3 linked regions of the Homo sapiens genome follow. The protein of the gene in region 2 interacts with the protein of the main gene of each other region in a biochemical or structural test. Each region holds a gene or a part of one and is shown on either strand. Other genes may lie near its edges.

What was found.
Region 1: the proteins of UBE2V2 (region 2) and SHPRH form a complex in vitro, tested with the Homo sapiens proteins (one study listed by BioGRID).
Region 3: the proteins of UBE2V2 (region 2) and RC3H2 form a complex in vitro, tested with the Homo sapiens proteins (one study listed by BioGRID).

Annotation. Positions count from the first base shown.
Region 1 is NC_000006.12:145,943,643-145,947,398, reverse strand, and holds part of SHPRH (E3 ubiquitin-protein ligase SHPRH), read left to right. Parts: intron 1-1,057; coding exon 1,058-1,166; intron 1,167-1,761; coding exon 1,762-2,018; intron 2,019-3,596; coding exon 3,597-3,756. UniProt on the Homo sapiens protein: E3 ubiquitin-protein ligase involved in DNA repair.
Region 2 is NC_000008.11:48,060,417-48,064,172, reverse strand, and holds part of UBE2V2 (ubiquitin-conjugating enzyme E2 variant 2), read right to left. Parts: intron 3,492-3,756; coding exon 3,345-3,491; 3' UTR 1-3,344. UniProt on the Homo sapiens protein: Has no ubiquitin ligase activity on its own. The UBE2V2/UBE2N heterodimer catalyzes the synthesis of non-canonical poly-ubiquitin chains that are linked through 'Lys-63'. This type of poly-ubiquitination does not lead to protein degradation by the proteasome.
Region 3 is NC_000009.12:122,877,641-122,881,396, forward strand, and holds part of RC3H2 (roquin-2), read right to left. Parts: intron 3,155-3,756; coding exon 2,954-3,154; intron 2,680-2,953; exon of another isoform or gene 2,573-2,679; intron 2,486-2,572; coding exon 2,353-2,485; intron 2,234-2,352; coding exon 2,115-2,233; intron 1-2,114. UniProt on the Homo sapiens protein: Post-transcriptional repressor of mRNAs containing a conserved stem loop motif, called constitutive decay element (CDE), which is often located in the 3'-UTR, as in HMGXB3, ICOS, IER3, NFKBID, NFKBIZ, PPP1R10, TNF and in many more mRNAs.

The sequences.
Region 1 (3,756 bases), on a different chromosome or scaffold from region 2:
TTCTGTTCACTCTGTGGGTAATGATTTATATTAGTGGTTAGTTAACTTCAAGTGGGCAGAGAGAATGGGGTGTTTGTGACCCAGAAGGTTTATTTTTGAAGTAATGTTGGCCAACTAGGAAGAGAATTTGTGATCACTTACTGAACTTTCTTCTAGTTGGCAGAGAAACTCCTTTACAAAAGTACTGTTGACTCCTCAAATGTTTTGTCACTAATAAAGTCTCCATATTACTACTAAATATTTTTAAGAGCTATTTAAAAATGTTATACAAATCTCATATATATAAATCTTAGAACCAAATAATTAGAACTTTGTTAAAGAACAAGTAGCTTAGTAAATAGATTGCTAAATGAAACAAACTTCAAGTCCTTGTCCCAAAATACATAATTGTGTTTAAAAATATAAATTTTAGAGTTACAGAAACAAAGTCCACTAAGGCAAATATAGTATATAGCTCATATTTTCTAGTAATGAAATCTGAAATCAGCCCTTACATTAAATCTTGCTGAAATGAAGTCAGTAGTTAAAGGTATAATTATAATTAATTACCTCTAGGACCCACCAGTCTCACAGCTTTAGCATTATGTTATCTTTCAGTAGGGTCAAGTTTGCAGAATTAGCCTTTCAGATTTGAGTAGAAAATTTAAAAAAAAAATGTTTTTTTTGTAGACAAATGACTTGGAATATATTGACTTAACTATCAGTAACTTCTTTCTGAGATTTCCTACTCATTACTATTTTAATTCCAAGTTATTTTCATATTATTATAAATTCAATGGGTTAATTTTATATTTAAATATACCTTTAAAAGTTAATTTCAGAGGTTCCACACATAACATTTAGGTAATTTAAGATAATATGCACAATTTTTTAAGTGATAGCTAGCTGTAAACTCAGAAATAAAACTGTGTATGTATCTACAGCTATTTGGCCCTTTCTCTTGCAATTTTTTTAGAACTGTTTTGCATTTCCATAAAGAAGGAAAGTTAATTTCAATAAGCAATTCAGAATACTGAAAGCAAAACACTGTGTAACTACTGACTGTTGTTTGTATCAGGGAAAAGTGGTGAATTATTTTATTCCGTCACATTATTTTGGAGGAAAACTGAAAAAGACAGAAATCCAGAATATCGAATTTGAACCAAAAGAAAAAGTTCAATGCCCTCGTAAGTAAGACATCTCTTAAAGGAAATACCTTCTTATAGTGATCTTTGCTAGAGTTCTTGCAATCCTTAGAGATATCTTGTAATTGTTATAAACAATTGTTTTTACAGTTATATATGCTTTTGATAAATGAATTCAATTACAAGTCATAATATCTTAACAAAAGTAAAGATGTATTATTTTGTTTGACTTGGCCCAGGTAGTTCTTGCTCAGTCTGTTATATTTAAATCTCTTTAGCTTACAGTTTAAACCAGGCTTTATTTATCTTTTAGGAAATGAATGTTTCGCATACTAATGGTAGCGTATACTTAAATAATTGTGAGAGTTTTCTTTTATAATTTTGAATGATTGTTTTATAGTATTAACAATTCAATATGAGTAATTCTTCCTTTGATTATTTTTATTACAGTAATTTGTTTCTTAATATGCTGAGATACATTTTTATTACATATTTTTTCAAAATGGCACTCTGCTGTAATAAATCTTTGATTTATTTCTTTCTTAACTCAGTCCTCATGCAGATTAAGATTAACCAAGTTTTACTTTCTTTTCATTTTAATTATTTTGACTGATTTAGCATATCCTTTTACATTTAGCTACACGTGTGATGATACTGACAGCTGTGAAAGAAATGAATGGAAAAAAAGGAGTGTCCATCCTTTCCATCTATAAGTATGTCAGTTCTATATATAGATACGATGTTCAACGGAACAGGAGTCTTTTGAAACGGATGCTGAAATGTTTAATTTTTGAAGGTCTCGTGAAACAGATCAAAGGCCATGGTTTTTCTGGGACTTTTACATTGGGAAAGAATTACAAGGAAGAGGATATATGTGATAAAACAAAAAAGCAGGTAACAGAGCTTAAGTTCAGCTCTATATTAAGTACACGTATGTGATACCTTACTGAGTACATTGACAGATCCCACCTTGAAACTGAAACTCTTACGATCTGAAGATAAAAAAATAGGAAAAGTACTTATATCTGTAACTTCTACTTTCTACTTTGTGGATATAAACTCCGTGAGAGTAACTTTACTTTGGCTATCATTAAACCTAGAGAATAATGCTTGGCACGTAACAAATACTCAGATATTTATTGAGTGAATTAAAAAACTAGTTGGCTAAGCGTATTATAGAGTATAAAGCATCTTCTGTATTATTTATTTTTATTATTTTTTTAAGACACAGGGCATCTATTGCCCTGGCTAGAATGCAGTGGTCATAGCTAGCTGCAGCCTTGAACTCCTGTGCCAAGCTGTCATCTTGCCTTAGCTTCCCAAGTAGTTGTGAGTACAGGCTCATGTCACCATGCCTGGTTAATTTTTCTTGTTTTTTTGTAGAGACGGGGTTCTCACTATGTTGCCCAGGCAGGTCTGGAACTTCTAAATTCTCATTTTCTTTATATTATTATCTTATACAATTTCTGCATTTTGTTAGAAAACTGCTTCTGTTGGGCCAGTAATTTCAATTTGCTTTTAGGAAAATAGTTATAATATTTGCAATCATAAATAAAGATTAATGACAACAAGTCAAAATGTGGAGCTACCAGCTCGGCCACCAAGAAAAAGACAAAAAATTTATTTTCTGGAGTAGGGAGTCTATATTATCCTTGGGTAGCACTGAAGACAGCAGTGAACTGTGCTTTTGGTAATCCTGCTACCACCAAAACTAGAAGATTTCCCTCAGTTAATGCCATTGATTACATGTTGTGTCTTAACTCCCCTGTTCGACCTCAGCCCTGATATGCCTTGGAGGAAGCTGTCCCTATTAACTACCTGCCTATCATACTCCCACTATGTTGTACAACCCTCTTAGGTATTCCCATAGCATCATTTTACTTTTTACTGTTCTCACTTTTCCAGTAGACCCCTTTGAAACCGGGGGCCAAATATTGTTCATATTTGTGTCCCTAGCATCTAACACAACTACTGGCACAGAATTGGCATTTAATAAGTAATTGTAAGAGAGGACATATGTAGAAAAGGGAAGGAAAGAAGGAATCAATTTGCTAATTGCAGTAACCAGTGGATTATCTTTTACTTTCTTTGGATGCTATATTTTAGTACTTGGTGTTTTTGTAGTTGCCCTGATTTGTATATTTATGTACTCGAAAAGTACTAGTCTTGTATTGATTTAGGTAGACTAAATCATAGTAGGTAAATAACAAAATATCAGTAGCTTCCTTTATCTTTCTAATTTTTCATCTCTCCAAATCTGACACTTGTAGAGCCTTCCTTTTGTTTTGAGATGAAGTGAGGGTCCTTACAGAGGGCAGATTGGAAGCCACTTATCAGGAGTGATTCTCCTCAGGGAAAAGGGTAGCAAAGACTGGCTGCTACATAATTATATGAAGTACTTACATAAAGTCAGGAGTTTAATTTCAGAAATGCAACTAGTTGCAATCAATTAATTAAATATTTTTTTCATAGGCAGTAGGGAGTCCAAGGAAAATTCAGAAAGAAACTAGAAAATCAGGGAACAAGGACACAGATTCTGAATACTTGCCATCAGACACCTCTGATGATGATGATGATCCTTACTATTATTATTATAAGTCCAGGAGAAATCGCAGTAAATTGAGGAAAAAGC
Region 2 (3,756 bases):
TTCCTGAAATGCCTCCAAAATCCTATTATGCATACTAGACTTTATCATCAGTACTTATATTCTTCAAAATGTACCTAATACAGTCACATGCTCATTAAAAGAGTTGATACAGTTTTGATGGCAGGCTACAGTTCCCTGCTGTCTTTCCATGATGCATCAGCAGAACCATTCAAAGCCACACACACCAAACCTATTAAGAAAAAAGCATTCATAATTCCCAGCTGTGTCCTCTACATTTTCCAAACAATATTAATTTCACATGTATTTATCAATATTATATATTTAGTGGGAATTAACATTAAAATCAACATATTGTTCTTAAGTAATCCAGACTAATAAACCATGAGTCAAACAAATCTACTCTGCGAAAACCTCAAATCACTCTGTGTGATAAATTATTTTAATAACATAAAGCTATAAATTTTCTCTATTTTTATATCCAAGACTAAATACCATTGACTATCCTTCAAAATGTTTATGTTCCAAAATCCTGTAGTTACACATAAACCCACAACAAAAGACATTACTTTAGAATGGTAGAAAAAAATATTTTTAAAAATTGTCAATTCTTAAAATTGGTTAAGTAATTAAAACCATTAAATCATAACACTGACCTAACAGGACAAGAAGTTTCTTTTGGTAATCTTTATTAGTATATGATCATCCTCAAGGGTCTCACTTGCTAGCCTTTTAAACAAATTTCTAAGGCAAATTTACAGTTCATTTAAAAGGTAATAAATACCACACACTCCTACAACCTTAGCCACTTTACAAAACAAAGGAAAAATTTCTTCCAAATGTTATTATAATTAAGAGCTTTTCTATATTAATTCCTCTTACAGTCTCCCAGTGTGTCTTAGATTGCCAAGTACATCTTGATTGTGACATGCAAAATGGATTCTGCTTTAGAAATGGGTTAATTGGCATGCAGATTTCTGCAGAGATCCATAATCCCACAAACAAGAGGGGAAATGAACATTATAGGGCTGACTCTGACAACATGTACTTGGCAGGGGAAGGCGGCAGGGGGTTGGCAACTTCACAATGGTGGATTTGGGGGAAGGAAACAGGACAAGAGACTGAGGTACCCAGACCCTCATCCTGCCAACAGCATTCACGTAGTTACTAGCTTCCATGTATAATAAGACACATTTTCAAAATGGAAAGGAGGTTATCAGAGAGACGGATTCAGATCATCAGTTACCATTAGACTACAGTTTCATTCAATTTAATCTTTAACCATTAAAAATTTTTAAAGACTATATTTCAAGGTAATAGTTCATTTCAAATTTAACAAATTACAAATGCACTAATTTGTATGTATGTGTATGTTCTCTATGTGTCATCTTAAAGCATTTTAAACATTTTTGATAATTAAAATGCAACAGCCATGTTGAAATTAATGTTTACATAAACTGTCAGTGACTTTATTGGCCAAGAAAAGGTAGCTCAAAGCTTTAACTTTATATGAGCTTGATAAAAGCCTTTCAGGGCATGTTTGAGAAATGTGCTCTACTATAAAAGTAACTATTTTAATATACAGCCAAGGTCAATTATTAATATTTTTCTTTTTTTTTTTTTTTTTGAGATGGAGTCTTGCTCTGTTGCCCAGGCTGGAGCAGTGGTGCGCTCTCGGCACTGCAACCTCTGTCTGCCAGTTTCAAGTAGTTCTCCTGCCCAGCCTCCCGAGTAGCTGGGACTACAAGTACCCACCACCACACCTGGCTAATTTTTTGTATTTTTAGTAGAGACAGGGTTTCATCATGTTGGCCAGGCTGGTCTCAAGCTCCTGACCTCAAGTGATCTGCCCGTCTCAGCCTCCCAAAGTGCTGGGATTAGCGGCATGAGCCACCACATGGCCAATACTTTATAAGCAAAGTTTAAACAACTAATTTAATATTTGATAAGGTTTTGGTTTGCCTATATATACTGGGGTAAAGTATGACACAAATTATTAAGCTTGACAAAATAAAAGTAGACTTTACCTGACCACCTTTCTATATTCTTCAGTGAATTCATCAAACAGCATTTTCAACAAAGCTTTGGATCCAGTACTTTGAAGTGAAACAGTGACCTAAAGCCTCACGTCACTTTGGTGAAAGCGGAACATAAATGACTTTTCAACTTCAGAGTTCATATTTGTTAGAGTAGAGAATACGAGGAATGAATAAAGTTATCCTTGTTAGTATTAAAAGCCCTAATTGGAAGAGAAAAGTCTCCAATTAGTTGACCCTATTTATTAACCAAAAGCTTCACAGAAAAACAACTAAAAAAGATATTATGCTTTAAAAAATGGGATATATATTTGGATAATTTGCAACCTATAATCCTAAAAGAACTGCCAGAATGCAAAGATCTTTTTAATATTATTATTTCTGGTGAAATCAAACTCAAAATATAATACCTAGGACTCCTTGTCCAAAGAAGAAATTAAACTAGATAATTTCTTTTCTGAAATAGTCTGCAAATTATAATTCACAAGAAGTACACAAAATAGGGTAAATAAAAGTGTGTATACATGAAAAGCTACAATAATTCCAATTTTTGCTTCCCTGGCAAGGTACTGTACATATACATCAACATAATAGAAATGGCACAGTCTCTGAGGACACGTTTCACATTTTATTTACATTTTAAGACTAACTTTAATCTCAAAATCACATATCCATACACCTATTTCCTTTTTGTTGACTTCACTTAAACTTAAATGCATGGTTTGTTAAACAAAGACTGTAAACAAATATTTACCATGTCTGTTACATGTAACACACAAGAACAGCTTTTAACAGGAATTCATCAACTCCCCCCAACATTTTTTATTATAAATACAGGTATCAAAACAATCCTGAACATATTTTTGATACTACTAGTAGTCAGCACCCACATTGCTTCAAAAATTAACACATCTGTGACAATATTCATTGTACCTGCTACTTTTTAAACAATTTCAACTGCAGCTCTCTTTCACTAAGTAAGATGGGTAAAGCATGCCATTTCTGTTTTCTTGAGATTTTTACTTTTTAGAAACACACATGCTTCCACTGCCATCTGACACTTCTCCACACGCTTTCATCTTGTAAACCTGAATTCTATTTCGAGTACTCCAGGTTTATGTTTAAATGACAGTGCCTTTCAAGAGAAAAAAAATTGTGCTGCATTTTTCCTCCTGTTACCTGAAAACATAATGGGTGTACATATATTAAATATATTCTTACAAATGTCCAGGTCATGTTTACCAGCTGGAATTCTTTTACTTAATGTGTATTTTGCATTGTGATATTTAATCAAGACATTAACATGAGTAGAAGGTTGTTGATTTAAGACAAGTTTGAGATCCACTAAAATTAATTGTTGTATGTTTGTCCTTCTGGTGGCTGTGGAAGCTTCATATTTTCTTTGGACATCATTAGACGTCTTAGCTCTTGAAGTACAACTTTAATGCTATATGAATTTTGCCATTTTGCTAACACTGGTATGCTCCGGGCATCCACCTGAAAGGGGAGGAAAGAGTACAGTTAACTAGCAAGTTTAAAGTACTATGGCACCAATTTGTTAAGCATATTTTAATAAGAATGATTTTGAAAATTCATAGCTTGCCTCTATTTTCACAAAACATACACTATGGAATTACTAATACCATAATTAGTATATTTTATCATAATTAGTTTAATATTTTGGGAAAATATAAAGACATAAAACATACAGTGAACTTTGGTCATCAGAAATAAATGTTATATTAAATAACTACTTTGTCAA
Region 3 (3,756 bases), on a different chromosome or scaffold from region 2:
ACTCTAGGAAGTTCAGAACTTTATAATTACACCTTTAATTCTTTTTCACATTAGACAAGTAATTCTTGTGCTGAAACAACTAATATTCCATTGTTTCCTGTTGTGAGTTATGTGACATAACCCTGAATTGGCACTTCAGATATTCCTTCTGAAGATTATTCGAAACTGGTTCAAATGTTATGTCCATTTATTCATTAGTTAACAGAATGCCCAGAAAAAGAAAATATTTTTTCATCAATTTATTGCTGTCTTAAAATTCTGCTACCAAAATCAAACAATTTTAAAAAGCATTAAAAAAAAACCAAAAGCTTTGTCTACTTAAACTTTCTCAGAAAAGGTAGAATACAATTCCACCTAGAAGTGAAAAATTACCAATTCACTTGTCAGCTTGAGGGTGCAACTCTCAGGCTTAAACTATTTGAGTTCATACAATGAGGCAGAATATTAAAATTTCACTATTACTTCTACAATTTGCATCAAAATCTAAGACATTCTTATTCTTATGAGCCTAGGATGAAAACATTTGTTTTTAATATTTTAAGTTATAATATCTTCTAAGAATAAGGAGAGAAGAGTACAAAGTGTAGGTTTGATCCCAGCTCTTACTGACAGCACAACCTTTTTTATTTTTTATTTTTATCTTTGAGACGGAGTCTTGCTCTGTTGCCCAGGCTGGAGTGCAGTGGCGCCATCTCAGCTCACTGCAAGCTCCACTTCCCGGGTTCAGGCCATTCTCCCTGCCTCAGAGAGCTCCCAAGTAGCTGGGACTACAGGCGCCTGCCACCACGCCCGGCTAATTTTTTGTATTTTTAGTAGAGATGGGGCTTCACCATGTTAGCCAGGATGGTCTCGATCTCCTGACCTTGTGATCCGCCCGCCTCAGCCTCCCAAAGTGCTGGGATTATAGACATGAGCCACCGCGCCCAGCCCCCTGACAGCACAATCTTATGTTATTTAACCTCTTTGAATTTCAGCTTGGAAACAGCAACTACATTGCAGGTGGCTGTGAGGATAAGAAATAATACATGTAAAACATTGAATGTAGTGAATGGCTCATAATAATTTATTAAATAGAAGTTATAAGTATAAAGGATTATATCTTAACTTCTTTTTATTTTATATTTTTGGAGACAAGAGTCACTCTGTCGCCCAGGCTGGAGTGCAGTGGCGCGATCTCGGCTCACTGTAGCCTCCATCTCCCGGGTTCAAGCGATTCTCCTGACTCAGCCGTCTCAGTAGTTGGGATTACAGGCATCCACCACAATGCCTGGCTCATTTTTGTATTTTTTTTTTTTTAGTAGAGATGGGGTTTCACCATGTTGGCCAAGCTGGTCTCGAACTTCTGGCCTCAAGTGATCCACTCACCTCAACCTCCCAAAGTGCTGGGATTACAGGCGTGAGCCACTGTGCCTGGCCAGGTTTATATCTTAACTTCTAAAGTACACTGAAAAGTATCTTGAAAATTCAAATTTCGGCCAGGCACGATGGCTCACGCCTGTAATCCCAGCACTTTGGGAGGCCGAGGTGGGCAGATCACCTGAGGTCAGGAGTTTGAGACCAGCCTGGCCAACATGGTAAAACCCTCTCTACAAAAAATACAAAAATTAGCAGGGCGTGGTGGCACTTGCCTGTAATCCCAGTTACTTGGGAGGCTGAGGCAGGAGAATCACCTGAACTCAGGAGGCAGAGGTTGCAGTGAGCTGAGATAGCGTCACTGCACTCCAGCCTGGGTGACAGAGTGAGACTTTGTCTAAAAAAAAAAGAAAGAAAATTCAAATTCCATAAATTTACATATAGAAATTCAATACAGAAAAAAAATGACAATTTCCCACAGTAGAAAAGAATGAGACAAAACGTTTGGAATCAATTATCTACATTTGGTCAAAAATATTCTGCAATAAAGTATACTCACACCCAAGATACCCTCTAAACTCTTGGTGTGCTATGAAATGTTTACCAAGTACACTAAAAACTGGGTTCCTCCCAAAAGAATAGAGATGATAGAAACTTATGAGTCACATACGGAGTCCAATTAACAAAACAGCTGGTTAAGATGTTCAGGATGAAACTGAGTTAGAGACAACAGCAGTCAGAAATGTAATAAATGTACTTACCTGAGGGGTCTCATGGCCTTTTCTACTATAATTTTGTATGAAGTCCACAAGGCCATGAACTACTGTTTTAACAGCTACCATTGCATTTTCCAGCTGCTCCCAAGTTGGTGAAACAGCGTCTAAAATAAGCCACCAAGGGCATGGGGGTTGGGGGGGAAGAATGTTAGCAGTAATTCTCTTGTGTTATTCACCTCAAAAGTAGAAAAAAATATAAGCAACTGAGCATATTCCCACATACCTGGATTAGGGTCTATGTTTGCAAGAAGCTCTAAATGAGGCCTCAGTCTATTTAAGTTAGCTGGGTCACCTGTTCGTTGCAAAACAATTGTCAATTCCTGGACACTCTTTGCAAATGACTCTGGAGACTGTAGCTAACAAACAGAAATGAGAATGCTTTTTACTTTGGTTCTTATGACACATTTATACTCAAATACTTTCAATTTATCAACATATTTAATACGTTTTCAAGTGTCTTCAGATTCCACAGTAGGAGTATCAGTGATGAATTAAATTTTCACCTCAGAATCTGCCCTATGAAATTCATCATTAGACACTTAGAAAACTTATAAGCTGTATTAACTCTCTGAGGTCAGAATATAGATAAATTTGAGACTTTGTAAGCCTCACTGCTTTTATGCTAGTATCATGTATTTGTTTCCCTGTTGCATCCCTTTATTTTGCAAGTAGAAAAATAAAAAGAAAATAAGGATAATTTATAAGAGTCTGACATTTAAAAACATAGGAATCTCCAACTGTTTGTGTATAGACTCTTTAGAATATTCTAATACTCTTCAATGTAACAGCAATGATAGAACATCAGCATCTCTAATTTCACAAACCTTATCAATGATAGACTGCATGTGTGATTTATGAGCCAAATCACCATACAAAAGAGAGGACCACTGTTCAGGTGAAATACGGAGTCCTGCTTCCATGGCAATATGAACAATTTGGGCATCATGTTCTCTGCGTAATGCTTCATAACTCCGAAATTCCTCCTTCAGCTGCATTAGGGAAGAGTCTTCATCTCTTTTGGTAACCTAAAAAATAGAAAAGAGAAAAATCAGAATTGGTCTGTGCTTTCTCCCTTCAACTGATTCGTTTATTCCTTTTTCAGGGAGGGTGGGGGATACTTACATATCAGACACCACAGAAATAAGGTACAAAGATAAGATAATGTCCTGACCACAAATTCTTTCTGGAACAAAACAGAACTTACATAACTAAATACATAATCCTTGCCTTCAATGATTTCAGCCACTAGTAAGAAAGAGAAACTTGTAAGTAGAAAATTATAGTAAAAGTTATAAGGCTTGATGGCAACAAAGAGGAAAGGGAATTAAATTAGGGAGAAGAAAGGGATTTCAGAAAAGGCTTCTCCCAGCTGAAAGCTACATGAATTGATTTGTGCACAATAAACAGGAGTTTCCTGAGCAAAGAAAGGTGAGGAGGCCAGGGATGGTGGCTCATGCCTGTAATCCCAGCACTTTGAGAGGCCGAGGTGGGCAGATCACTTGAAGTCAGGAGTTTGAGACCAGCCTGGCCAACATGACGAAACCCCATCTCAAGAAAAAATACAAAAACTAGTCAGGCATGGTGGTGGCAGGCGCCTGTACTCCCACCTACTCGGGAGGCAGAGGTT